7 linked regions of the Homo sapiens genome follow. The protein of the gene in region 6 purifies or fractionates together with the protein of the main gene of each other region. This does not show direct contact. Each region holds a gene or a part of one and is shown on either strand. Other genes may lie near its edges. The genes, in order: INTS4, SLC25A17, RRP1, XPO7, CDS2, VSIG1 and INTS2.

Region 1 (3,500 bases), on a different chromosome or scaffold from region 6:
AGAGACTGCCAAGAATACAAAAAATGGAAATGATTTTGCCTATAAAGTAAGCAACTATATTGCCTATCAAAGTACATACTGGACAGGCATGGTGGCTCACGCCTGTAATCCCAACACTTTGGGAGGCTGAGGTGGGTGGATCACTTGAGGTCAGGAGTTTGAGACCAGCCTGGGCAACAAGGTAAAACCCCGTCTCTACTAAAAATACAAAAATTAGCCGGGAGTGGTGGCAGGCACCTGTAATCCCAGCTACTTGGGAGGCTGAGCCAGGAGAATCATTTGAATCCGGGAGGCGGAGGTTGCAGTGAGCTGGGGTGGTGCCACTGCACTCCAGCCCAAGCAACAGGTTAGGAATTTGAGACCAGCCTAGCCAACATGGTGATACCTCATCTCTACTAAAAATACAAAAATTAGCTGGGTGTGGTAGCGGGCGCCTATAATCCCAGCTACTCAGGAGACTGAGGCAGGAGAATTGTTTGAACCCGGGAGGCAGAGGTTTCAGTGAGCCGAGATCAGGCCACTGCACTCCAGCCTGGGTGACAGAATGAGACTCTGTCTTCAAAAAAAAAAAAAAAAAAGAAAGAAAAGCAAAGAAAAGAAAATTCAGACTACCCTAGCTATACTGCAGAAGGAGATGCCAAAGCTGCCTGCCAACACATCAGGGCCCATCCTAAGCACAGAGGATACAAGCTGGATCATCCATGTCTGGTTCAGCTGTGTCAAAAAATGGGTGGGTGCTCAGAAGCTCTGGCACCAAGGGAAGCACCAGGGTTGGATGCCGACTTCCCAGAAACTTCAAGCACCTGAAACAAACAAATAAGAATGCACATCAACAAATTAGTAAAGTTAGTCCTTTGAAAAGTACTAGGAACTGGAATCAGAAAACCTGAACTGGAATTGGAAATTCTCAACCATATACTTTTGCTAACTCTATGACTTCAGATAAGTCACCCAGTTATTCTGGAACTCGGTTAATTCATCTAAAAAAACTGGTTATTATAAAGATAAAAGAACTGGTTATTTAACCAAGAGCCATTTCCCCCATCTTTCTTCCTGAGAGAGCCCTGATTTTACTCAGGTATCAGGCAGGCAGCAAAGTGCTCGGAAAAGGCAGGTCCAGCCCAAGAGCTGAACCACTATTGGTCTAAACCCATCATGGCAATCCCATTCCCATTTTCCAGTGACTGGTTTGCTGGTGGGCAAGTAAGCCAGTTCTAGACAATGGAGCACGAGAGTATGCTGGCTGGGGAGCTTCTCAGGGATGTTTTTGCAAATCAAAAGAGCAATGCATGAAAGGGAATGACCCTTCCTTTCTGTCTTGAGATATTATCTTATGAGGCAGCCATCTTACAACTATGAGAAGAAAGCCGGCCGGGTGTGGTGGCTCACGCCTATAATCCCAACACTTTGCGAGGCCGAAGTGGCTGGATCAGGAGGTCAAGAGATCAAGACCATCCTGGCCAACATGGTGAAACCCCATCTCTGCTAAAAATACAAAAATTAGCTGGGCATGGTGGCACGGGCCTGTAGTCCCAGCTACTCGGGAGGCTGAGGCAGGAGAATCACTTGAACCTGGAAGGCGGAGGTTCAGTGAGCCAATATTATGCCAATGCACTCCACCCTGGCGATAAAGAGAGACTCTGTCTCAAAAAAAAAAAAAAAAAAAAAGCCAAGAGAACTGCAGAGAAACCAAAGAGAGCCCTGGTAACCTGTTGAATGACGAATCCTGAAACCAACCTTCTGACCACTTGTTATGAAAAAACAGACTTATTGGCTAAGATATTTTTAATCAGATTGTCTTTTTTATTTGTGGGCAAAAACATTCTGATTGATATCCTGGGTGAAGTCCTGAAATCACAGATCTGTCTGAAACTAAGTAGCCTTATGCAAGTAAATTTTTTCATCTACAAAATGAGATTAAAAGTCATTACTTCATAGAGTTGCTATACGCATTAAATAACTAACATAAAGTACTTAGCAAAGTGTCTGTCACATAGTAAGAACTCAATGTTAGCTATTATAACTACATGAGGGCCCTTTATAAACTATAAGGAACTATAAAAGCAAGGTAATTATATATTTTTATTATTGTTTATGGTTTTTTTTTTTTTTTTGAGACTGAGTCTTGCTCTGCTGCCCAGGCTGGCATGCAGTGGCACAATCTCGGCTCACTGCAACCTCTGCTTCCAGGGTTCAAGCAATTCTCCTGCCTTCGCCTCCCAAGTATCTGGGATTACAGGCGTGTGCCACTAGGCCCGGCAGATTTTTGCATTTTTAGTAGAGATGAGGTTTCACCATGTTGGCCAGGGTGGTCTTGAACTCCTGACCTCAGGTGATCCACCCGCCCCAGCCTCCCAAAGTGCTGGGATTATAGGCGTGAGCCACTGCACCCAGCCAATTTAGTGCACCTTCTAAACCAGAACTTAATGAATAAAAAATAATAAGGCCAGGCACAGTGGCTCATGCCTGTAATCCCAGCACTTTGGGAGGCCGGGGCAGGGGGATCACCTGAGGTCAGGAGTTCAAGACCAGCCTAACCAACATGGTAAAACCCCATCTCTACTAAAAAAAAAAACAAAAATTAGTTGGGGTATGGTGGCATGCAACCTATAATCCCAGTTACTCGAGAGGCTGAGGCAGGAGAATCGCTTGAACCCAGGAGGCAGAAGTTGCAGTGAGCTGAGATCACGCCACTGCATTCTAGTCAGAGTGACAGAGCGAGACTCCGTCTCAAAAAAAAAAAGTAACAAAACAAAACACTATATAGGAGAAAGAGGAAATCTAATTAATTTATTTCTATACTTGTAACAGCTACCACAAGGGTTGGTGCATAGTCAGCACACAGCAGGCACATAATATTTGCTAGGTGGATAGATGCACAAATTAGTAAGTAATCTAAAATGTGATACTCAGCTTAGGAATCAGATTCCTGAGAGTTCGGTTAAGTTGAATCAGGTTTCTAAAGTAAAGGCAAAATTCAGGGCCGTACTATCCTCAATCTATAAGGACGGAACAAATGTCAGCATTATACATTTACCACATTATGGGACTCAGTGAGTAAATGGGCAAAAAAGTCATTACTTCCATATGGAGTCCCTATCAGTAGGGTACTTGGTTAAATTTTTCAGCAGCTCCACCAATGCAAGATGAATCCCTTCTTTGGTTGAAACATTAGTACAGCATAAGAGTTCATGAAGAGCCTCTCGAATATCTCTGGATGAATCCTTTTAAAAAAAAAGTAATAATAACAGTAGTTACTGTTGGTTAGCAGACTCAGCCTCTATCTACCATCCCCTTCTACCCAGCCACCTTCCCATCTAGGGTGGCCATGTAACAAAGTATGTGGAAGTTTTTTAGCTGAAATTCCTGAAATATCTTTCATTTTATTGATAAAGGACCAGAGGCAGTAGCTTTATCCCCTTTGTTCTTTAACCTTCCTTTTCCATCCTATCTGGAACTCAATCATGATGCTGAAGGTACAAGAGCCTTTTTGCAACTAG
Region 2 (3,500 bases), on a different chromosome or scaffold from region 6:
ACACAGTGAGACTTAGTCTCAAAACAAATAAAAATTTAAAAAAATTTTTAAAAACCACCTAAGATGTTTTCTGTGGTTTGAGCTAATAAAATTCTAAAGATTAAAAGCCACTTACAATGGCTTTCATATTTAAAAATGTTATTCACCTCATCAGAGTTAATGTAAGTCTTTTCCCTGACATAACAATCAAGCTAACTCATACATACACAGACAGATAGGCAAGTTACACAAATGGCCTCATGGATGACACTCTCGAGTGTTTAGGGATAAAATATAGGTTTACGTCCCAAGTATAGTATATATTACATAAGTAACTTCAAATCTCTATGTCTCAATTTCCTCATTTGTAATTTTGAGACCGGTATTTGTCAAGGTTGCTATGAGAAGTTAGAATCAAATTATGGAAAGTAGCTGGGCATGGTGGCTCACACCTGCAATCCCAGCACTTTGGGAGGCTGAGGTGGGTGGATCACTTGAGGTCAGGAGTTCGAGACCAGCCTGGCCAACACGGTGAGACCTCATCTCTACTAAAAATACAAAAATGAGCCAGGAGTGGTGGCACACACCTGTAGTCCCAGGTACTCTGGAGGATGTGGCAGGAGAATCACTTGAACCTGGGAGGCAGAGGTTGCAGTAAGCCGAGATCGTGCCACCGCACTCCAGCCTGGGTGACAGAGCGAGACTCTGTATAAAAAAAAAATACCCTCTCTATTAAAAATACAAAAAGATTAGCCGGGTGTGGTGGCAGACACCTGTAGTCCCAGCTACTCGGAAGGCTGAGGCAGGAGAATGGCGTGAACCCAGGAGGCGGAGCTTGCAGTGAGCCGAGATCACGCCACTGCACTCCAGCCTGGGCGACAGAGCGAGACTGAGTTTCAAAAACAAAAACAAAAAATTATGGTTGGCACCTAGCATCATACCAGGCACACAGGTGGCACTCAACAATTGTTGGTTTCTACATGTCCTTTATAGCTATAGTATCTGTTAGTAGTAGAAACCACTGTTAATTTTAGGGCCCTAAAAGGAGTAATGTCTTCTCAAGTTCCTTCCAAAAGAGCAATTGCTATTTAGTAAAAAATAAACACCAACTGCTCTTTCAGAAGGAGCTTCAGAAAGGTAGAAGGGTCAACAGTATAGAATACTTACAAAGAACTGGAATCAATTAAGAATGCAAAAACAGTCAGTAGATGTATAGAGCACTCTTGACATAAGTAACTCCATCTTAGAAAAAGACTCCTATCTTTCATTTCAAAAAGCACTTTGACAACAGGGACCAGATGTTTTTCCAGATAAAGACACAACCAAGCATGCTCTTCCACTATCAGTCCTTACCAGAAGACTCTGTGACCATAAAAAGAACAGGACTTAAAAAACTCAAAATGGTCTTAACAGACACTGTCTTGCTGTCACTTGTTATAAAAGCCTGATATCTGTGTCCAAAGGCTCTGCCCACATCAAGGATTCTTTCTTACAAGACCAACACACTGCCATGATGAAACCAGGATACTTGTCTATATCACTCTCCCCGGACTGGTTAGGTAACCCTTTTTCCTCACCCTTTTCTCTTGATGTTCAATGTTACTTTGTTGCAGAATGTTTAATCTACATCATTTATGTATTAATTAGGTATACTATTATATATGATTTACAATATTGACTGACTACCTAGTGAATGAGAAGTACTAATAAAAATTGCCTCCTTGAGAACTCCATGTAACTTGTCTTTTATAACTGAAATAACACAATAAAAGTCTGACATTGTGAAAAGACACAAATGTGTGTGTACCTGGTTATCCATGACCTTAAACCATTCACAATAGTAGATTAAGCTGTTAGGAAGTCAGAGTTGACCTTTGGAAGAACAGTTCCAGTGGTCAAAGTAGGATGAGGAAAGGCAGTACGTGCAGAATATATATATATATATATATATATATATATATATATTGTTGTTGTTGTTGTTGTTTTGTTTTGTTTTGGTTTTTTTTGTTTTTGAGACGGAGTCTTGCTCTGTCGTCCAGGCTGGAGTGCAGTGGCGCAATCTTGGCTCACTGCAAGCTCCACCTCCCGGGTTCATGCCGTTCTCCTGCCTCAGCCTCCCGAGTAGCTGGGACTACAGGCGCCTGCCTCCATGCCCGGCTAATATTTTGTATTTTTAGTAGAGATGGGGTTTCACCGTGTTAGTCAGGATGGTCTCGATCTCCTGACCTCGTGATCTGCCCGCCTCAGCCTCCCAAAGTGCTGGGATTACAGGTGTGAGCCACCACACCCGGCCCAGAATATTCTTTAAATAAGCTTAGCACAAAGGGAAAGAGAACAGGCAGAGGCTGAAGAAGCTACCAGATTCCAGATCAGATTGGTATAGTTTTCTGATGGGACAGACCTGACCATGTTTGAGGGCTGAACAGAAGCAGATACTAGGTTAAAGCTATAGGAAAGAGATGAAAATTACTGGAGCAAAGTCCTGGAAGAAAACTGGCCATGGGCTGGAGGGGAGGACAAAGATTGAAGGTAGCAGACACTGAATATGTCTATTTTTCCTCTGAGACCAGCAGAATGTAGAAAACACGAGTACAACTGTAATTGGAAAAAACTGAAAAAACTCATCCCAAGTAGGTTCTATTTTATCTAGAGAGTAAAAGGTAAGATCATCTGCAACAAGTGAAGGGAATGGGTGGAGATGGCCATGAGGCAAGAGAACATTTCAATTCCCTTAAATTTCTAAAACTAGGTATAAGTGCTGTATTTGCAAGAATATACTTGAGACAGAAATGAATAATTATGGTCTTACTACAACGTTCCATTATGCTAGATGCTCCACAAATATAATCACATTTACTTCCCACAAGAACCCAGTTAAGTGAGGCATTGTTATTGTCCCTGTTTTATAGTTCGATTGATGATGGCATTCATAGTTAAGCTTTACTACAGAACCTTTTTTTTCAGCTATTATGCCATATTTGCTTCTTAAAAAATTAAGTTATACAATACTATGTATGACGATATAATTTCATTAATCGTTTTTGATTCAGGCATAAACAAAGTTAGAAAAGTAATTCCAGGCCAGGCGCAGTGGCTCACGCCTGTAATCCCAGCACTTTGGGAGGCCAAGGCAGGCGGATCACCTGAGGGCGGGAGCTCAAGACCAGGCTGACCAACATGGAGAAACCCCGTCTCTACTGAAAATACAAAATTAGCCAGGCGTGGTGGCACATGCCTGTAAACCCAGCCACTCGGCGAGAGGCTGAGGCAGGAGAATCGCTTGAACCCAGGAGGCGGAGGTTGTGGTGGGCCGAGATTGCATCACTGCACTCCATGCACTCCAGCCTGGGCAACAAGAGCGAAACTCCATCTCAAAAAAAAAAAAAGAAAGAAAGAAAGAAAAAGAAAAAAAGAGAAAAATAGGCAACAAGTGAAAAAAAGAAGTATCTTTGTAGATTAAATAGAAATATATTACCACTATTGCCAGTCACTCTCTCTATAGCAGGAGTCAGAAAACTATG
Region 3 (4,094 bases), on a different chromosome or scaffold from region 6:
CACAGAGTCACGGTTAAAGAGGGACGTGGGAGAGCGGAAGGGAGCCTTGGGACTCACAGCCCCCTAACCATCAGGAGGAAGAGGGCTGCGAGACCCCATAGATCACTGGCTATCTGCCTACATCACCGTGCCAGCCATCGCCCAGAATACTTGCTAAGGGACATTTCACAGCCTCCCCTTGATAATTCAGTGGGCATGGAATATGGCCCAGGAACCTGAACTTAACTAAGTACCCTCACCACCCAGGAGATTTTGAAGGAGAGCACAAAATTCACAATTTGAGAAACAATGTTTGGAAAAGGCTAGCAGGAGACGTCCTTGTCTCAGGAGACTTGAATTCCGCCCCGTGGTTTCCACTATTTCAGCACTTGTTTGCAACCCAGGACAAACACAAAACCCAGTTTTCACCCATGCCAGTGCTGCTGCAGTGCACGGCTCAGTCAATCACATCAACACCTCAGCAAGTGTAAGACTCACCTAACAAAGGCCCAGGCCCACCAGCCGTGCCGAACCAAGCGTCAAGGCTATACGACCTCCCCACGGTCTCTGGCCATATTAAAACTGGGTTGACCAGGCCGGGCGCGGTGGCTCATGCCTGTAATCCCAGCACTTTGGGAGGCCGAGATGGGAGGATCACTTGAGCTCAGGAGTTCGAGACCAGCCTGACCAACATGATGAAACTCTGTCTCTACTAAAAATACAAAAAATTAGCCAGGCATGGTGGCAGGTACCTGTACTCCCAGCTACTTGGGAGGCTGAGGCAGGAAAATTGCTTGAAACCAGAAGGCTGAGGTTGCAGTAAGCCGAGATTGAGCCACTGCACTCCAGCCTGGGCAACAAGAGCGAAACTCCGACTTAAAAAAAAAAGAAAAACTGGGTTGACCAGATGCCCATCCATCCTCCCCCGCTGCTTCTGTACCTGCTCTGCTGCTCCCCCCACTCACCTGGAGGAGTGGCTTGTCCTGCATCCACATGCAATAAAACAGTCCTTTCCACACCTTCAGCAGCTCGTCGTGCGTAAAACCACCTGCATCAAAACAGCAACGGTTGGACCAAATGAATCCCACACCTTCGAGTGCCAGAAAGGAAGCCACAGAAACGTGACTGCCTGAATGAGACCAAAGTCCCACTTACGGTAAAGGCAACTGGGGGGCAGAATCTGGCCCTCCCCTTCAAACAATCCTTCTAACCCAGAACCTGCCGCGCCTGTGGCTATGCGGCTACTCCAGGTAACTGCTACTTCACGCACACAGTAAAACCGACTGAGATCTACAAGGTATCAGGCACCATACTCCATTTTGGAAATTCAAAATTGCGAACCTTGACGGTTTCCTAAGCTGGACAGTGGCCACAAGGTTAATCTGTTGGTGATAATTCATCCAGCATTATACTGAGGGCTTCTGCACTCTCCTGTAATATATCTCAAATACTAAAAGAAGAAAGTGAACTCAGGCATTCAGACTACGAGAGAAACAGAAATTACTGAGGCCAGGTGCGGTGGCTCACGCCTGTACTCCCAGCACTTTGGAATTGAGTGCTGAGGCAGGATCACTTGAGGCCAGGAGTTCAAGACCAGTCTGGGCAACATAGGAAGACCCCAATTTGTACAAAAAATACAAAACTTAGCTGGCCTGGCCGCACGGTGCCAGTAGTCCCAGCTATTGGGGAGGCTGAGATGGGAGGCTCACTTGAGCCTGGGAGGTAGAGGCTGCAGTGAGCTGTAATCGTGCCAATGCACTCCTCCACCACGGATGACAGTGAGGTCTGTCTCACTCAGAAAAATAACAAAAAATTTTAATTTAAAACATTACTCAGTTGACATTCACTGAAGTCCTATGTGTCTGGCAACCTGTTCCTGCAGCAGTGGTTCTCAGGCTGAGTGTGGGGAGCAGAAGCACTTGAACAGCTTCATAAAGCAGATGCCAGTCCTGATTTAGTAGGGCTGGGATCCTAGAACTTGCATTTCTTTCTTTTCTTTTGCGATGGAAATGGAGTCTTGCTATGTTGCCCAGGCTGGACTCCTGGGCCTTTGTGATCCTCCCACATCGACGTGCCAAGTAGCTGGGATTACAGGCTTGGGCCACTGCGCCCGGCATAGAACGTGTATTTCTAACAAATGTCCAGGGGATGCTACTGCTGATGGGGGACCACGCTCGGAGAACCACCTGGTACCATGAACAAGAAGTAGATTCTCGGCCCTCAGAGAGGTACTCTCGAGTGGAAATCGGAAAACAATCCAATAATTAACGCAAAACAGAAAACTGCAAACAGTGGGAAATGCTGCCATGAGGGAAAAATACTGGGTGCCCAAACAGCAGGGCAGCAGGAGTACATGGTCTACTGGAGGGAGGGGACGCCTGAGCTAGGAAAGGGGTTACGGGGCTGGGGAGGAGCGTTCTCGCAGAGGGACCAGAGTCACCGCACCACGAGGGAAAGCGGCGGCGGGGGCCGTGGGCCGGTAACAGCGGGAACAGGCCAGTGGACCCCGCCTGCCCGGCCCGGCCACGTGGAGGTTCCACAGGGCTCGGAGGGCCCCCAGCTCCGGCCGCCGCCGCCCACACCCGCACCAGCCCAGCCGGCCCCCGAGACGCCAGCCGCCCACACCCCCGCCAACCTGCGGCCCGCTGAGTCCTGGCGACGATGTATTTCCGGAGCTTCCTCACCGCCCGGTCCCGGGTCACCTGCTCATTCCCCGCCAGGCGCTGAGCCAGCTGGATCTCAGGCGGGAGCTGCACGCGCGAAACCATGACGCCGACGGCCGAGACCCCCTGTCCCGGAGTCGCCTGGTACCCAGCACACTGAGCACGCGCCTCCTGCGCCCGCCTCCTCCTGGCCCCGGCGCGTGGCGTGACGTCACAGCCCGCGACACCGCCCAGGCGCACGCCACCGCCGCGCAGTGGCCGAGCCGCGCAACTGCAGCCCCCGGAGGCCGAAGGCTACAGAGGGGGCGCGCGCTCCCTGCCTGTGCGCATGGGCGGAACCAGCGAGCGCGCGCCTGCGCCTGCGCCTGCGCCTCGCTGGGGCTGCGGTGGGTCGGGATTCTGAGGCAAAGATCTGTTGTTTTTTAATCTCATTTTATTTATAACCCCACTTGTATTTTTTTCCTGAGACAGGGTCTCGCTCTGTTACCCACGCTGGAGTGCAAGGCGCGATCTCGGCTCACTGCAGCCTTTGCCTCGCGGGCTCCAGGGATCCCCCAGCCTCAGCCTCCCGAGGAGCTGGGACCACGGGCGCCACCACTCTCGGCTCGAAACTTTATTTTTAAAACCAGGGGTGTGCCGGGCGCGGTGGCTCACGCCTGTAATTCCAGCACTTTGGGAGGCTGAGGCGGGTGGATCACGAGGTCAGGAGTTTGAGACCAGCCTGACCAACATGGTGAAACCCTGTCTCTACTAAAAATACAAAAATTAGCCAGGCGTAGTGGCGGGCGCTTGTAATCCCAGCTACTCAGGAGGCTGAGGCAGGAGAATTGCTTGAATCCGGGAGGCGGAGGTTGCAGTGAGTCGAGATTGCGCCGCTGCACTCCAGCCTGGGCGACAGAGTGAGACTCTGTCTCAAAAAACAACAACAAAAAAAAAAACGGGGAGGCTGCATTTGGCCTAGGGCCACAGTTTGACATACCCTGAAGTAGAAAAATATTCTTTATTTTTAGAAATAACTGCAGAACTCTTTGGTAAAGGTGACCTGTCATGATGTCTGTAATTCATTCTGCAAAAAAGTAAATCATTACACGCACATATGTGTATGCAGATAAGCAACTATGGCACACTGTTAACAGTTGTGGCGTTGGCCGGGCGCGGTGGCTCACGCCTGTAATCCCAGCACTTTGGGAGGCCGAGGCGGGCGGATCATGAGGTCAGGAGATCGAGACCATCCTGGCTAACACGGTGAAACCCCGTCTCTACTAAAAACACAAAAAATTAGCTGAGCGTGGTGGCGGGCGCCTGTAGTCCCAGCTACTCAGGAGGCTGAGGCAGGAGAATGGCGTGAACCCCGGAGGCGGAGCTTGCAGTGAGCCGAGATCGCGCCACTGCACCCCAGCCTGGGTGACAGAGTGAGACTCCGTCTCAAAAAAATACAAGTGTGGCGTCTAC
Region 4 (3,500 bases), on a different chromosome or scaffold from region 6:
TGCTCATCAGTGCTGGCAAAAGAAACCCGGCCACCGATCACTGCTCCAATAATGTAAACCAGCCATGTCAGCCTTCCTGCAGCAGGAGACAGACCCAGTGTCACCTCCAGTGATAGTTTCTTGAAGACATTCCTCACTCTGAACTTCCTTAATCTTAAGAACACTGTGGTGAAACCATGAAGTCTTACTTTTCTTACAGAGAATGGCTACTTCTCTGCTTTGGTAAGGGCAATGCTAAGAGGGAAATTCGTTAGGTAACCAATGTTCCTGTATCAGACAAGGCCATTATTTTTAGTGTAGTATTTCCTTAGAGTTAAAAACACCCAAGCTGGGCACAGTGCCATGTTACAAACACCAGCCAGGCCCGGTAAAAAGAGGAAGCCCAGGTTACTATCTGTACTTATCTCCCTGTTTCCCCTGGCCCTTGATTTAGCAGTCATAAACCTCTTGGCCTGGTCCCAGCTGTGCTGTGGGGCATTAAAAAGCAGACAGGAGCCAGGTGTGGTGGCACATGCCTGTAGTCCCAGCTACTTCGGGAGGCTGAGGCAGGAGGATCACTTGAGCCAAGAAGTACAAGGCCCACGTGGCAACATAGCGAGACCTCATCTCTTAAAACAAAATCCCACTGCAGATGTGATTTCAGTTCTTCTTCCCTAGTCCCTTGAGGGATTTATTCATTCATAAAGATTCTTGTGCATATGGAGACAACAGATGATGAAAGAATCCTTTTGCAGGGAGGTAGGAAAGAGGTGGCAATGAGCGAAGGGGTACTAGACAACATCTCCTCACAGGTCTAGAGTTCCCAGCACGCTGCACACTCACCCTCCTGCACTGCAATGTCCATTGGGCTTGCGCTGGCGCTCTGTAGCAGCTCCTGGTACGACTGGGCCGACTGGTCAAACAACTGCACGAGGAGTGCACACGTCTTCTCATATTCACAACGCCCAATGGTGGACAGCTGGTCCAACTGCTGCTGGACCAGCCCCGTATCCTCCAGGGGATCTTCCAGGCCATCTCTATTCCCAAGGGAAGAAGGAAGGCAGCTCTCTTAAAATATGACTACTGATTTGCCCAATATAGCAGCTCTCTGACTTCTTCACTTAGCCACCATTTCTGACTGTAGAGGTCTACATCCCGACATTACTTTTAACCAAGGAAGAATGTTTAATGAGGCAGAAGGCCAATGTCTTCGCCCTAGCATCAGTCTCCCTTAGGTATATTCTGCTTGTTGGTGTCAAATCTTACAATCTGAATTCTCAACTCTTAATGTTTTTCTGCCTTAAACCTCAAAGTCCTGCCCTTCTCAACTGTCTGACCTCTTGACTCTTAGTCTTTCGCTTGTTCTTGACTATAGTAAACTGTAGGATAAGTACACAGTCCTGTGTGGGAGGCCATTGTGGCCAGGTGTGTCTTGGAATTCAGAACTGTTCAAATTGGAGGAAGGCAGTATGATGCTTCTACCATATCATATAAAACCCTTGATGGGCTTTGTGGCACATCAAACTCAACGTTCCTGTAGCAAAACTTATGAATATTATAAATGGTCATACTAAGTAGGATTTTAAAAAAACTACAAATGGTCTCATACCAACTCCCGTCCGGTTTTGTAACAAGTGAATTCTAATGCCAAACTGATGAGGAAATTTCTTTTGTCACATCTTTGACTTTGGAATTGCAGACAAGGCATTGTGGCCCTGTACTAGGTCTTGCCTTATCTGCCAGCTCCTAGATTTTAACATCTTGTCCAATGAGGAGCTCTTCTGTTGTTACACTGCAATATGATAATGGCAGCAGCAGCAGCAGCAGGAGCAGCAGCACTAAAACTAGCTGTGTGCTTACCATGTGCTACACACTGTGCCAGGTCATATTAATTTAATCCTTGTAAGAACCTTATGAGGCAGGCCTATTATTATTTGAATTTTACAAATACAGAAATGGAGCAACTTGCCCAAGAGTACAGAGCTACTAACTGGCTATCCGGCCCCAGAGCCTACAAACATGTAACCACTCCCCAACAATGCCTCACTGAAGCCAGCCGAATCCTCAGGAGTGGAAGCTATGGAGGTGACAGAAGAAGGCTTGCTGGTGAACTTCATGAATACTCAGATTTTGAACTGATTCAAGTCATCAACAGTTAAGACTATAACTCATGACTATTCAATGCACTTGGGGCTAAGCAAATTAAGAATCCAACTTAAAAAGGCCCCAGACCCTTAGACTCCAAGTAAATTCTCTTGACAAACAGCCAGTGAAAACAAGAAAGCTACCTAAACAGGGCTATAACTTCATTTAATATAGGTAATTTTTGAAAGGGCTTGACATTTCTTTAGCTACGGGATTTTGGTTCAGTTAAGTCAATGTAGACAGAAACCATGTATGAATGTAAAGCAATCAGTGATCAGTGGCTTAGAATTCTTATGTGTTCTAGCTCTGGAATTAGAATTGATAACTAGATTGTGTAATCTTTATCCACTTATTTCTTTAGGAGTTCACATTAAGCACCTATAAGTTACACATAATTCTTATCATCTATATCTTATAAATGTTTCTCACATTGAAAGAAAAACAGCGGCAAGGACAAACATTATATGGATATACTCTATTCAAAGATATTGCTATGGACAGTGAAAAGGGGGAATATGAATAGAATATAAATGTTCAAGAGACAAGACTATTCTATCAGGCTTTATGCTCTCATGCTACTCTGCTGACAAGGAAGAAGAACCATGAACAGTAGTGGCTCCAATGAGACACGCTTCGAGTACCTCTTTGCCAATGGGGTGTCTGATCTCTAGGAAGTGTGACAACAGGCCACTGGTGCGGGAATGAATGAGGCTAAGTTTCCTTACCTCAGTATGATGTGCACAGATTCCAACCGGGATGTGATGTAGGCTTTGGTGACCTCAGGAGTGTAAGTTTCCAGCATGTGGGGCTCTGTGGCTTTGACATACGGCACAGAGGCTGCCAGCCGCTGCCACAGGCTCAGAAGATAGTGCACACTATTTGGAGCAAATTCCCAGTGCTAAAGAAAAGTAGAAAAGCAGAAGGCATATTTTTCATTTCTGTACGTGTTAGTCCCATGCCACTGACACAGAAGATAAAGACTTTTTTCTTTTTTTTAAAAAAAGAGGATAGACTTTTGTGGGCTTTGTTCTGTGTATGGCATCTAGTTTAATGTGTTTATTAGTATTTTCAAGATTAAGCATCTAATGAGAAGGGCTACTCTATGCTGGCTGTGTAAGCCTTACCATAAGGAAAGCCATATGTAAGTGGGTCTCAACCATTAGTATGCATGACAATCACCTGAAGAACTTGTTAGAAACACCAAGGCTCTACCCTGGACCTACTGAACCAGAAATTATGGGGATAAGACTCAAGAATCTATATTTTTTCATCAGTCCCCTAGATGACTGTGATACAAGCCATAAAATTTGAGACCCATTGTTCTATATTACATGACTAAGAAAGAGAGGGCATCAACTCTCTTTTTACTCTTCTGT
Region 5 (3,977 bases), on a different chromosome or scaffold from region 6:
GGAGTTCAAGACCAGCCTGGCCAATACAGTGAAACCCCATCTCTACTAAAAATACAAAAAAAAAAACGCCAGGTACAGTGGCTCATGCCTATAATCCCAGCACTTTGGGAAGCTGAGGCGGGAGGATCACCTAAGGTTGGGAGTTTGAGGCCAGCCTGACCAACATTGAGAAGCCGTGCCTCTACTAAAAATACAACATTAGCCGGGCATGGTAGCACACGCCTGCAGTCCCAGCTACTCGGGCGGCTGAGGCAGGAGAATTGCTTGAACCTGGGAGGTAGAGGTTGCGATGAGCCAACATCATGCCATTGCACTCCAGCCTGGGCAAAAGAGCGAAACTCCCTCTCAAAAAAAAAAAAAAAAATTAGCCGAGCGTGGTGGCGGATGCCTATAGTCCCAGCTACTCAGGAGGCTGAGGCAGGAGACTAGCTTGAACCTGGGAGGCAGAGGTTGCAGTGAGCTGAGATCGTGCCACTGCACTCCAGCCTGGGCGACAGAGAGAGACTCCGTCTAAAAAAATAATAATAATAAAATCCCATACATGACAATTCAGTGACAATTGAGAAGTTCTGAATAATGGGGTGAGGAACTGATTGTCTTGTTCTCGGTAATGAACATCAGGCTTTTAACAGAGTGCATAGCAGCTGTCTTTTAGGAAACAACACGCCACAAGTGGACCTCATGACCCCAGGCATTCTGTCACTGTATAAGTGATATAAGTGCACCTCTAGCTGGACAGCTCCTCAGGTCCTCCCAGTCTAAAGTACAGGATGTGAAAGTAAGACGGTTCAACTCGCACTTTATCTCTGGGGGATGGATCCAACGAGTCCGGGAAGGAGGGTAGAATCTTTATGTTGCATCTCATAATCCCAAGGTTGTTTTTTGACATTCTAATTATTGTACATAGTTAGCTTTTCAAAAACATGGCCCACCAGCTATCATGCCTTCTTTCTTCTCTCTCTCCTCACACCTTCTAGGTCCACAAAGTCCCACTAACATCAAGCATGATCTCACCCTTAAACAGAGCTACAGAGCCTCCAAACATCTGCATACTCACCAACTAGTAGTACAAGGTAAGTCAGAATTCTTTCAGGCTGAACCAGGATAGCCAAATGAAAAATTAGAGACTTCAAAGTATCTTGTCTCTGCAAGCGACTGCTAAATCCTCAGCCCCAGCCCTAAATGTTCTCCAAAATATGTTTTTGTTTTTGTTTTTTGAGACAGGGTCTCAAACTCCTGGGCTCAAGCGATCCTCCTGCCTCAGCCTCCCTAGAAGCTAGGATTACAGGCGAGCAGCACTGTGCCTGGCCAAAATATATGTTCTAAAAATCGGTAGGAACAGTTCTCTTTGGATAGTCCACTGTCAACTGCAATAACACGAAAGTTGTTTAAAAAAAACCCATGATCTCATTATCTTTCACCAAAAACATTCCTCCTAGTGTAACTGCTCTGTTGACATCCTGTCACCAAATCTTGTGCTTTCTTCCTTCTGGGTGTCTCCCTAATGTCCGTTGCGTCCAGTCATCAAAAAGTTACAGGCTGCATTAGGGGAAGCCGTGAGCCTGGTGTAAGGCAACAGGGATTGGTGGGAACCGATGATCCTCAGCTCCAGCCAACCATTGAGCAGGTGACAAAGTGATGGTGGACCCTCCAATTATCTAAGACAGGCAAGAAATTTAGATTGTTAGGAGAAACTTTCTGATTTTTAAGGCAATATGTGGGCCAAAGAAAACATCTACAGGTCACTCATGGGCAATCCCGAGTGAACCAGGCTCCCTCAGTCTGGTCCAGGCTCCCTCAGTCCCTTCTACACATCACTGTCTGATCAGTTTCCCAAACACAGGGCTCCTGATCACTGCTATCTCGGAAAGCACAACTACTGCTACAAAGTCCTATACTGCCATTCAACCTCCACAGTAATAAAACCAATCCCTACCTTCCTTAACTCCCCTACACAGATCTTTCACTTCACCCAAAGGAGTCCACTCCCCCACCCGTCACCCCCGCCACTGTCCCCGCCAAGATGGCCTCCTTCCTACTCTCCTCCCCTACCCACCAGAGCCCACACGGTGCAGGAAACAACCCATCAACCGGGAGGACGCCCTCCAACACCTGCTGATGACGGACTGGCTCACTGGGTAACACCCCTTTGCTCAAAGCCGATGATTTCATGCCCAAGAAGGGATTTACATCTCCCAGGAGGCAAATGCTATGGCCTTGTCCTGATTCCCCCACCCCCCAAAATAATAACATTGTAAAAGGGAACGGAGAGCCTAAGTTGCGCTCAGAGGAGCCGCCTCCCTAAGAAGGCTCTGCATATCTTCACCTCCAGGAAGGCCTCACGGAGTTGGGGGAGAGGGGAGTCCCCGCAGCCAGCCCAGCGAGGCAGGAGGCCGTGCGCCACTCCCGAGAAGCTCCTTCCTGCGCCCCGGGGGAGCCACTTCAGTCAGACCCTGAGCCGGGACCCCGACCCGCCGACCCCTGACGCGCGCGCCGCGAAGGCCGGGCACCCGAGGGCCCTTCGCGCTACCCGGGCCCGGGGCCGCCGTCGGCTGCGACAAAGGGTCAGAGAACAAGACGACCCCTCTGCGCGCGTCCCCCGCAGGCCTCCCGGATGCGCCGCTGTCCCGGCCGCGCCCACCCCGACGCTGCCGCTACCTTGTCCTCGGGTGGCGCAACCGGCTCATGGGCCACCCTCTGCCTCAGCTCTGTCATCCTGGGAAAATCGGCCCGACGTCGCCGCGAGCTAGCAGCGAAGCCGCCGGAGCAGGCAGCTCGGCGCGGGCACGCGCGGACTCCCACGGCCGGCCCCGCCCCGCCCGGGAGGCGCGCGGCTCTGAGCGGCTCACAGTTCCCTTAGCAGCCCAGCAGCCAGCCCTGGAGCTCGGCCCCACCCAGTGCCGTCACCGCCCTTTCACCCGGGCCGAGCGGGGTCAGCCTTCCCTAGCCCCGACCCGAGAGCTCCCTCTCCCGGGAGCAGGGCTCGGAGCGAGTGCGCACGCGCAGCGCCACCATCACGGTCCGGAATATCCACCAATGGCGCAAATACGCCAGGGAGGCAGGGCGACGGGGGCGGGGCGGGGCGGAGCAGAGTCGAGAGGCGCGCATTGGACGGCAGCGTCAGGGGCGGGAAAAGGCGTGCGTTTCAGTGTGCGATTAGCCAATGGGAGCTCCCGCTTAACCGCGGATGGCCGGAGCTGGCGCCCTGGTTCTGGAGGTAACCGGTTACTGAGGGCGAGAAGCGCCACCCGGAGGCTCTAGCCTGACAAATGCTTGCTGACCTGGGCCAGAGCTCTTCCCTTACGCAAGTAAGTAGACGTTATTTAGGTCGAATGGAAAGGCCAGGTGAGCCGACCTGGTTAAGAGCATTTTATCACTTATCACATGATGAGAAATGAAACCCACGCTTCAGTCTGCTTTGCTTTGCCAAGCGGTCGCTAGTACTTGTTAAGCACTAATTGTATACTAGGCACTGAGCTGAGTAATCGCTTTAGTTGGCTTATCTCGTTTAATCCACACATGGCTTGGAAGTGGGTATGATTTGAATTTTACAGTTAAGATCTTCCTCAGTGGTTTGTTTGTTTGTTCGTTTGTTTGTTTGTTTTGTGACGGAGTCTCGCTCTGTCGCCCAGGCTGGAGTGCAGTGGCATGATCTCGACTCACTGCAACCTCTGCCTCCCGGGCGCAAACAATTCCAAGGTGCGCGCCACCACGCCCGGCTAACTTTTGTATTTTTAGTAGAGACGGGGTTTCACCATATTGGTCAGGCTGGTCTCGAACTCCTGACCTCAGGTGATCCGTCCGCCTCCGCCTTCCAAAGTGCTGGGATTACAGGCGTGAGCCACCGAGCCTGGCCCTTCCTCAGTTTTTCAAATTTGTCTTCTGGACTATGGAAAGACCTTTTTTGGGACAGAAGTGCTGTCTACTTTGTTTACTGTGCATCCTCTATGTCTTTGACACATCCATTGTAAGTACTT
Region 6 (3,500 bases):
AGGAAACTCATATTTACATTTTTTATTTTTGCAGTCAGTCACATTATTTATGCTTCACATGCAAGCAGGTGTTGGCTTACTTTTGTGGTCTGTTGTTCTAACAGCAGTTTAATTTTCAGTATTGTTTTGCTCTGTTTGGTTTATCGGATATCACTGAGGCTGACATTTGTCCCAGATCATATCGCCTGAAGGAGCAGAAAGGTTTCCCTAGGTCAGGCTTCCAGGTGCCTCTCAGTTGGGGTAGGTATGGTGGGACACTTCTACTGGCGCCCTGCACTGTTGGTGTCTCTATGGGTAGGAGAGGACAGTCATACACCCACTGAGACAGAGCCTTCCCAGACTGGGCCGCTTGCCATCACTTTATGCCTCGTGTCTGTTCTACCCTCCCACCTCGATATCTCTAGGTGAAAGTGGGACATCTCAGGCCTGGGGAGAAGGCAAATGCTTCTTTTGTCCACTGTTGTTGGTGGGGTTTCTGAAGATCCCCCCTTACCTGTGGTGTTGGGCCTACCTGATGTTGTCAGAGGGACTCTGAGGGAGGAGTAAGCTTACCTGGGCTGCCCTCTGTTGTTCAGTTGGGTATCAGGAATGGCCAGGACTAGGTTTCTTTCTTCTGCTGGGTGGGAAACATAGGATACCCTTGCTCTTTGTTTTTCCCTGGGTCTCAAACCAGTTTGCCTTCTCCTTACAACCTTCCAGAGTTCTACCCTGGTTGTCTCTTGCATTATTTCCAGGGTTTATACTTGTGCTTAGCAGGGAGGAACAATGAAAAACAGGTCTGTACTACATGTCCAGACCAGAAATCTCCCTCAGTTTTTAAGAGTGTAAAATTGTCCTGAGACCACAAATTTTGAGAACTGTTGGCCTTACAGAAAGATGAAGTAATTAAGCTCCCCATAGGATTTGGAGGCCCACCGAAGGGCACCCTACCCAAATCCAGCCTGCCACTACACTAAAATTCTCAGTTCTATATGAGCACTTTCCAAAGGGCTATTTTAGGTGATGGCACTTTGGGGAGCACTATACAGTCACTGTCTTATCTTATTAACTGGTTGCTATGCATTGCATTGTCGAAGACTATAAAAGTTCTCCAGGATGGGTCACGGGATTGGCAGGCAAGCACTGGAAGAGAAAGTCAAGTTCAAGAGACGCTCTCTATGCTGTCCTAGTTGCCTGCAGGGTAACAGAGGGTGTTGGAGGGTTGAGGGTGAAGGGATGAGGATACAGAAATTATGAAAGATTCAGAGGAAATTGCATAGAGGGACTAATTCCTGTCCATCTTCCCAATTTTGCATACCCAAAGACTTATTTATTTCATATTTTTCTTACTTAATGACAGCAGTCAGACAAAAAGAACTTAAAGGATTGACAAACACTTTTAAAAAGTAAAAGAAAAAAAATCGTTGTACTGATTACTCTTGGTTTCATGGATTCAATATCTGTGTTCTCTGTCACAGCCAGGTCACCTGGTCCAGCTGCTTTCCTGCCAGAAGCTGGCTGTTTACATGGCAACCAATGCACTGATAAATTAAGAAAAGTGCCTGAATGCAAACAAAAATGCAGCACTTTTTAACTCCATACAGTTTCCCTCTTCCCAATATTCTCCTCCCCATGCTTTCCTGGTTTCCATAATGCCTCCTCCAAAAAGGAAATTGGCTTTCAGAAAGCAGCTAATCTTTCCAACAAAAACTTCACTGGAGAAAGATGGTTCCCTCCCACCCTCAAAGAGCCCATTTCATTTCTCCTGGAAGTTAGCCACATCTCTGGCCGTGCTTAAATGATGACTTCCAAATGTCTTTAAAGTGTCCAAAATAAAAAGGATAAAACTGGGGTTTTGGTAGCCCTTAAAGTTCCCAGACTTATTCCCTAAAAACAGAGATTTTAGAGATATTATTTGGCCATAATTTTTGTTCTCTAGTTTGGGACCCAGTATCTGTTACGAGATTGGTTAAGGGTGAGAATTTATGAACAGATAAGGCAAAACAATAAACAAAACCCCACAAACCCCCTTTGAAGACCACTCTTGGAAAAAGTGTTTGATGGCAGAGTACACACAGTACTCACACAAGTCAAGCCATGGAAGAGGCTGTGGAGCCTAGCAACAAATATCAATTGAGCACCCATTTTGTGCCACAAACAGTGCTGAACACTGGGGAAACAAGAATGAACATGACAGACACAATCTCTGCCATCCCTCAGTGCAGCAGGAAGCCATTTATAGCACAGATGAGAATAGAGGTGAATGAAAATCAAGGATTTGGAAAATATAAATCTGATTCAAACATTTCTAACATTTTAAATATAGAAGATATATAAATGTGTAACTAATTAGAAATCTGCAAAAGTTTAATAATATCACCTTGGAATTAGGATGGTAATTTCAAATTTTAAAGTGAGACAATATTTTTTGAGGTACTACACATTGTCATGTAAATAAGTAACAGTTGGCAAAGCAAAACCTCCAGGCCATTTTATTGCCCAGATTCCCAATTCTTAGCACCATAACCAATTAAATTCTGAAGAAAAGATGTTTTTCAGACATTGTCCAACCATGATATAGTGATGATATGCTTCAGAGCTAAAAGTTATATATTTCCAGATGAGCCTTTTTAAAATGTCACATCATTCAATTAGTGCACATTACTTAAAACCTCTGAGCTCACCCTTACAGTGCTGTCCAACAGAACTTCCTGTGATGATGGAAATGTTCTATCTCTGCGCCATCCAGTTCAGTAGCCCAAATAGAATTATCAAACACTTGAAATGTGGCTAGTGAAACTGAGGAACTGACTTTATAATTTTCATTAATCTGAAGTGATTTAAATTTCAATAGCCACATGTAGACAATGGGCAGTGCAAACTTAGTCCTAAAGTGGAGGTGATTCTCTGAGTGTCAGGGAAAAAAGTTCCCTTCCTTTGGATTAAGTCATTCTAAGTTGAGAAATTATTTAAAAATTGAATAAGTCAGAAAAATCTCTACATCAATAGGACTGTGAATAAATAGCAAAGTAAAGATTAGTATCTGATTTAAACAAAACCCAAGAACGCAATGTCCCTCTCTGACTTGACCAAATTTAAAAACAAAACAAAAATGCATATGTGGTTGAAATATGTGTAATCTCTTTTAAAAACCAGTGCTTACCTGCACGTTGTGCACATGTATCCTAAAACTTAAAGTATAATAATAATTAAAAAAGTGCTTATTATTAAAGAAAAATAATCCAAGATGTACACACTTAATCAACATTTAAAAATATTTTTAGGCTGGGCGCAGTGGCTCACGCCTGTAATCCCAACACTTTGGGAGGCTGAGGTGGGCGGGTCGCCTGAGGTTGGGAGTTCAAGACCAGCCTGACCAACATGGAGAAACCCTGTCTCTACCAAAAATACAAAATTAGCCGGGCGTGGTGGTGCATGCCTGTAATCCCAGCTACTCAGGAGGCTGAGGCAGTAGAATCACTTGAACCCGGAAGGCGGAAGTTGCGGTGGGCCGAGATCGT
Region 7 (3,500 bases), on a different chromosome or scaffold from region 6:
CTCAAGTGATATGCCTGTCTCAACCGACCAAAGTGCTGGGATTACAGGCGTGAGCCACTGTGCCTGGCCTACATTTATATTTCAAAGAACAACCTAAATTAATGCTTTCTCCCCAGTTGTATTTCAGTTTGTAGGCATTTATTGTGGGTTTTGTGTAGGAAATGTGTGGTATTAAGCTAAGTTACTAGTCATTTATATAAGTATAGTAATTAGGGATAGTAATTATAATTATATAATTATACAGTAATTTCAGATTTTTAAAACAATGTAAGATTTTCAAAATGCATAATACTCCATTTAAATTCTCAATAGTGGCACATGGCTATTTTATTAAAACTTAGAAACTGCCATTTTCTAATTTTTTTTTTTAATTTTAAAGACAGGGTCTCACTCTGTCGCCCAGGCTGTCATAGCTCACTGTAACCTCAAACTCCTGGGCTCAAGCAGTCCTCCTGCCACAGCCTCCTAAGTAGCTGGAACTACAGGTGCGAGCCACCACTCCTGGCTTTTTTTTTTTTTTTTTTTTTTTGAGATGGAGTCTCACTTTGTTGCCCAAGCTGGAGTGCAGTGGTGCTATCTCAGCTCACTGCAACCTCCGCCTCCTGGGTTCAAGTGATTCCCCTGCTTCCGCCTCCTGAGTAGCTGGTATTACAGGCTCCTGCCACCATGCCTGGCTAATTTTTTTTTTTTTTTAATTTTTAGTAGAGACAGGGTTTCACCATGTTGGCCAGGCTGGTCTCAAACTCCTGACCTCACGTGATCCACCCACCTCGGCCTCCCAAAGTGCTGGGATTACAGGCATGAACCACCGTGCCTGGCCTCATACCTGGCTTTAAAAAGTGTTTTTTTGTAGAGACAGGGTCTCGCTATTTTGCCCAGGCTGGTCTGGTCTTGAACTCCTGGTCTCAAGCAATTCTCCTACTTCGGCCTCCCGAAGTGTTGGGATTACAGGCATGAGCCACTGCAGTGGGCCTGGTTTTGTTTTACAAATTGGGGAAGCTGCCATGACTAGTATTTGTTGATTTGTCATAAGGACACCTCACACCTAACTTAGAATTTTGACATGTTTTGATTTGTCTTAGTTGGCTATATCTAACAAGTTAAAAGGCCCTCTAAAGAGAAGGTATTAAGACCCAGGAGGTAAAGTAGACTGAAACTTTTTCAGATATTTACAAAGAACAGTGAATAATATATGCATGATATATCACTTTTTAATTGTTGCTTGTTTTTTGTGATTTAGTGAGATTATTTTCCAGCCAGATTGCATCATCTGCTTTATATTTTTAGCAAGTAAAATAGCTAAGAATTAAGAGTTCACATGCACCCCCAACATTTTACATGTCCTCCATCCAATGATAGTTAAGTGATAAGTCTCCTGTAAGTGCTTTTCAGAGACATTTTCTTAGTCTATCTGAGGGTTTGCTGTGAAGGACCTATCTCTCTCTCTCCAAATTCCTATCTAACGTGAGCTCTCCCATGACGACACACATGGTGCTCTAAATACAGATATGGTAGGGACTTAAAATGTTTTTCCCACTACTTAAAAACTAATAGATTAAACCGAAAGGCAAGCTTCTAGTGGAGGGTGCACCTAAGATGATACAGATATAATGGTAGTTCATATTTTAAAATCAAAGGCAGTTATGATACTAGATAATATATTTGGAACTGCCAAAAGTTAATAGTGAGTTTTACTGATTCATAATTCATGTAAAACTGTATGTACTTTTATAATTTTGCTTGGTTTTTCTTTTTGCCACAATTAATTCAGTGTCTATAACATTCTTTCTTAGGATTGGATTTATAGACAGCTGTGTGAAACCTCTACTCCACTTCATCCTCAATTACTTCCTTTGATTGATGTGTACATAAATTCTATACTTACTCCTGCGTCGAAATCTAATCCAGAAGCCACAAATCAGCCAGTCACAGAACAGGAGATACTCAATATTTTCCAAGGAGTCATTGGGGTAAAATAGTGGTTCTTTTATATCTATTAACTTATTTTTCTTTTAGTTCTTCTTACTTAACCCATATTTTTATTTTCCTATCAGAGGACTTCTAGGTAGTTCTGAATTTAAAATTAGATTAAATTTCCTTAGATCACCTCTAAAAATTAAAAGAATGGTATTAGTTCCAAGTAGTTTGCTAAACAGGCACTTTTTTTTTTGAGATGGAGTTTTACTCTTGTTGCCTAGGCTGGAGTGCAGTGGCGCGATCTCAGCTCACTGCAACCTCCTCCTCCCTGCAACCTCTGTCTGCCGGGTTCAAGTGATTCTCCTGCCTCAGTCTCTCGAGTAGCTAGGATTGCAGGCGCCTGCCACAACGCCTGGCTAATGTTTTGTATTTTTAGTAGAGACAGGGTTTCACCATGTTGGCCAGGCTGATCTCGAACTCCTGACCTCAGGTGATCTACCTGCCTCAGCCTCCCAAAGTGCTGGGATTACAGGTGTGAGTCACTGTGCCTGGCCTTTTTTTTTTTTTTTTTTTTTTTTTTTTGAGACTGGAGTCTTGCTGTGACACCCAGGCTGGAGTGCAATGGGCAGTCTCGGCTCACTACAACCTCCGCTTCCTGGGTTCAAGCGATTCTCCTGCTTCAGCCTCCTGAGTAGGCTGGTCTCAAACTCCTGACCTCAAGTGATCCTCCTGCCTTGGCCTCCCAAAGTGCTGGGATTACAGGTGTGAGCCACTGCGCCTGGCCAGTAATTTTTTTTTTTTTAAGCTTCACTTTAAAGTCTAATGGGTTCCCTGGAGATTGTGTATTTGATCAAGTACTGTGTGGGATATCAAGATATTCAGCATAGGTTTGTTTAGCATCCTGGGAATCTAAGATACACCTACATTCATTTAGGGGGATTTTTTTTTTTTTTTTTGAGACAGAGTCTCACTCTGTTGCCCCGACCGGAGTGCAGTGACACGATCTCAGCTTACTGCAAACTCTGCCTCCTGGGTTCAAGTGATTCTCATGCCTCAGCCTCTCGAGTAGCAGGGATTACAGGCACCTGCCACCACGCCTGGCTAATTTTTATATTTTTAGTAGAGACAGGGTTTTACTATGTTGGCCAGCTGGTCTCCAACTCGTGACCTCAGGTGATCTGCCTGCCTCAGCCTCCCAAAGTGCTGGGATTACAGGTATGAGCCACTGCTCCTGGCTCATTCAGGGAAAATTTGATGAAAGTATTTTTTCCCCAGTTTGTTAGAAGGGAAAAACAGTTGCATTTTTCACAAATATATTTAAGTATACAATGTCTTATTTAGGAGTTACTTTTTTCATGGTAATTTCATATAATACTTGGGACTCCTGTCTTTCAGAAGCAGCCTGATGGGTTTGCTATTGAGTAGTAGCTGAAGTCTTTTCTTTGTCTTATCTTAAAGACCACTTAAGCATGTTGCCTTTCATCTCTCATGCCATCTCAGATTTCATGTTGTTTTTTTGAGTTTAATACACACACAGCAACATTTCTCCTGTTTTACCTGAGTTAGGAGCAGCAATGCTGAAT

Evidence for each region.
Region 1: the proteins of VSIG1 (region 6) and INTS4 purify together in Homo sapiens (co-immunoprecipitation; 3 studies listed by BioGRID and IntAct, with this or other methods). This does not show direct contact.
Region 2: the proteins of VSIG1 (region 6) and SLC25A17 purify together in Homo sapiens (co-immunoprecipitation; 3 studies listed by BioGRID and IntAct, with this or other methods). This does not show direct contact.
Region 3: the proteins of VSIG1 (region 6) and RRP1 purify together in Homo sapiens (co-immunoprecipitation; 3 studies listed by BioGRID and IntAct, with this or other methods). This does not show direct contact.
Region 4: the proteins of VSIG1 (region 6) and XPO7 purify together in Homo sapiens (co-immunoprecipitation; 3 studies listed by BioGRID and IntAct, with this or other methods). This does not show direct contact.
Region 5: the proteins of VSIG1 (region 6) and CDS2 purify together in Homo sapiens (co-immunoprecipitation; 2 studies listed by BioGRID and IntAct, with this or other methods). This does not show direct contact.
Region 7: the proteins of VSIG1 (region 6) and INTS2 purify together in Homo sapiens (co-immunoprecipitation; 3 studies listed by BioGRID and IntAct, with this or other methods). This does not show direct contact.

Annotation. Positions count from the first base shown.
Region 1 is NC_000011.10:77,921,669-77,925,168, forward strand, and holds part of INTS4 (integrator complex subunit 4), read right to left. Parts: intron 3,225-3,500; coding exon 3,082-3,224; intron 3,000-3,081; coding exon of another isoform or gene 2,978-2,999; exon of another isoform or gene 1,783-2,977; intron 804-1,782; coding exon 688-803; intron 1-687. UniProt on the Homo sapiens protein: Component of the integrator complex, a multiprotein complex that terminates RNA polymerase II (Pol II) transcription in the promoter-proximal region of genes.
Region 2 is NC_000022.11:40,812,847-40,816,346, forward strand, and holds part of SLC25A17 (peroxisomal membrane protein PMP34), read right to left. Parts: intron 1,113-3,500; exon of another isoform or gene 1,037-1,112; intron 1-1,036.
Region 3 is NC_000021.9:43,788,283-43,792,376, reverse strand, and holds the start of RRP1 (ribosomal RNA processing protein 1 homolog A), read right to left. Parts: upstream 2,801-4,094; 5' UTR 2,748-2,800; coding exon 2,615-2,747; intron 1,028-2,614; coding exon 945-1,027; intron 1-944. UniProt on the Homo sapiens protein: Plays a critical role in the generation of 28S rRNA.
Region 4 is NC_000008.11:21,982,162-21,985,661, reverse strand, and holds part of XPO7 (exportin-7), read right to left. Parts: intron 3,023-3,500; coding exon 2,850-3,022; intron 1,017-2,849; coding exon 823-1,016; intron 77-822; coding exon 1-76.
Region 5 is NC_000020.11:5,125,831-5,129,807, reverse strand, and holds the start of CDS2 (phosphatidate cytidylyltransferase 2), read right to left. Parts: upstream 2,801-3,977; 5' UTR 2,716-2,800; coding exon 2,659-2,715; intron 1-2,658. UniProt on the Homo sapiens protein: Catalyzes the conversion of phosphatidic acid (PA) to CDP-diacylglycerol (CDP-DAG), an essential intermediate in the synthesis of phosphatidylglycerol, cardiolipin and phosphatidylinositol.
Region 6 is NC_000023.11:108,048,065-108,051,564, reverse strand, and holds part of VSIG1 (V-set and immunoglobulin domain-containing protein 1 isoform 2 precursor), read right to left. Parts: intron 1-3,500.
Region 7 is NC_000017.11:61,889,983-61,893,482, reverse strand, and holds part of INTS2 (integrator complex subunit 2), read left to right. Parts: intron 1-1,793; coding exon 1,794-1,970; intron 1,971-3,500. UniProt on the Homo sapiens protein: Component of the integrator complex, a multiprotein complex that terminates RNA polymerase II (Pol II) transcription in the promoter-proximal region of genes.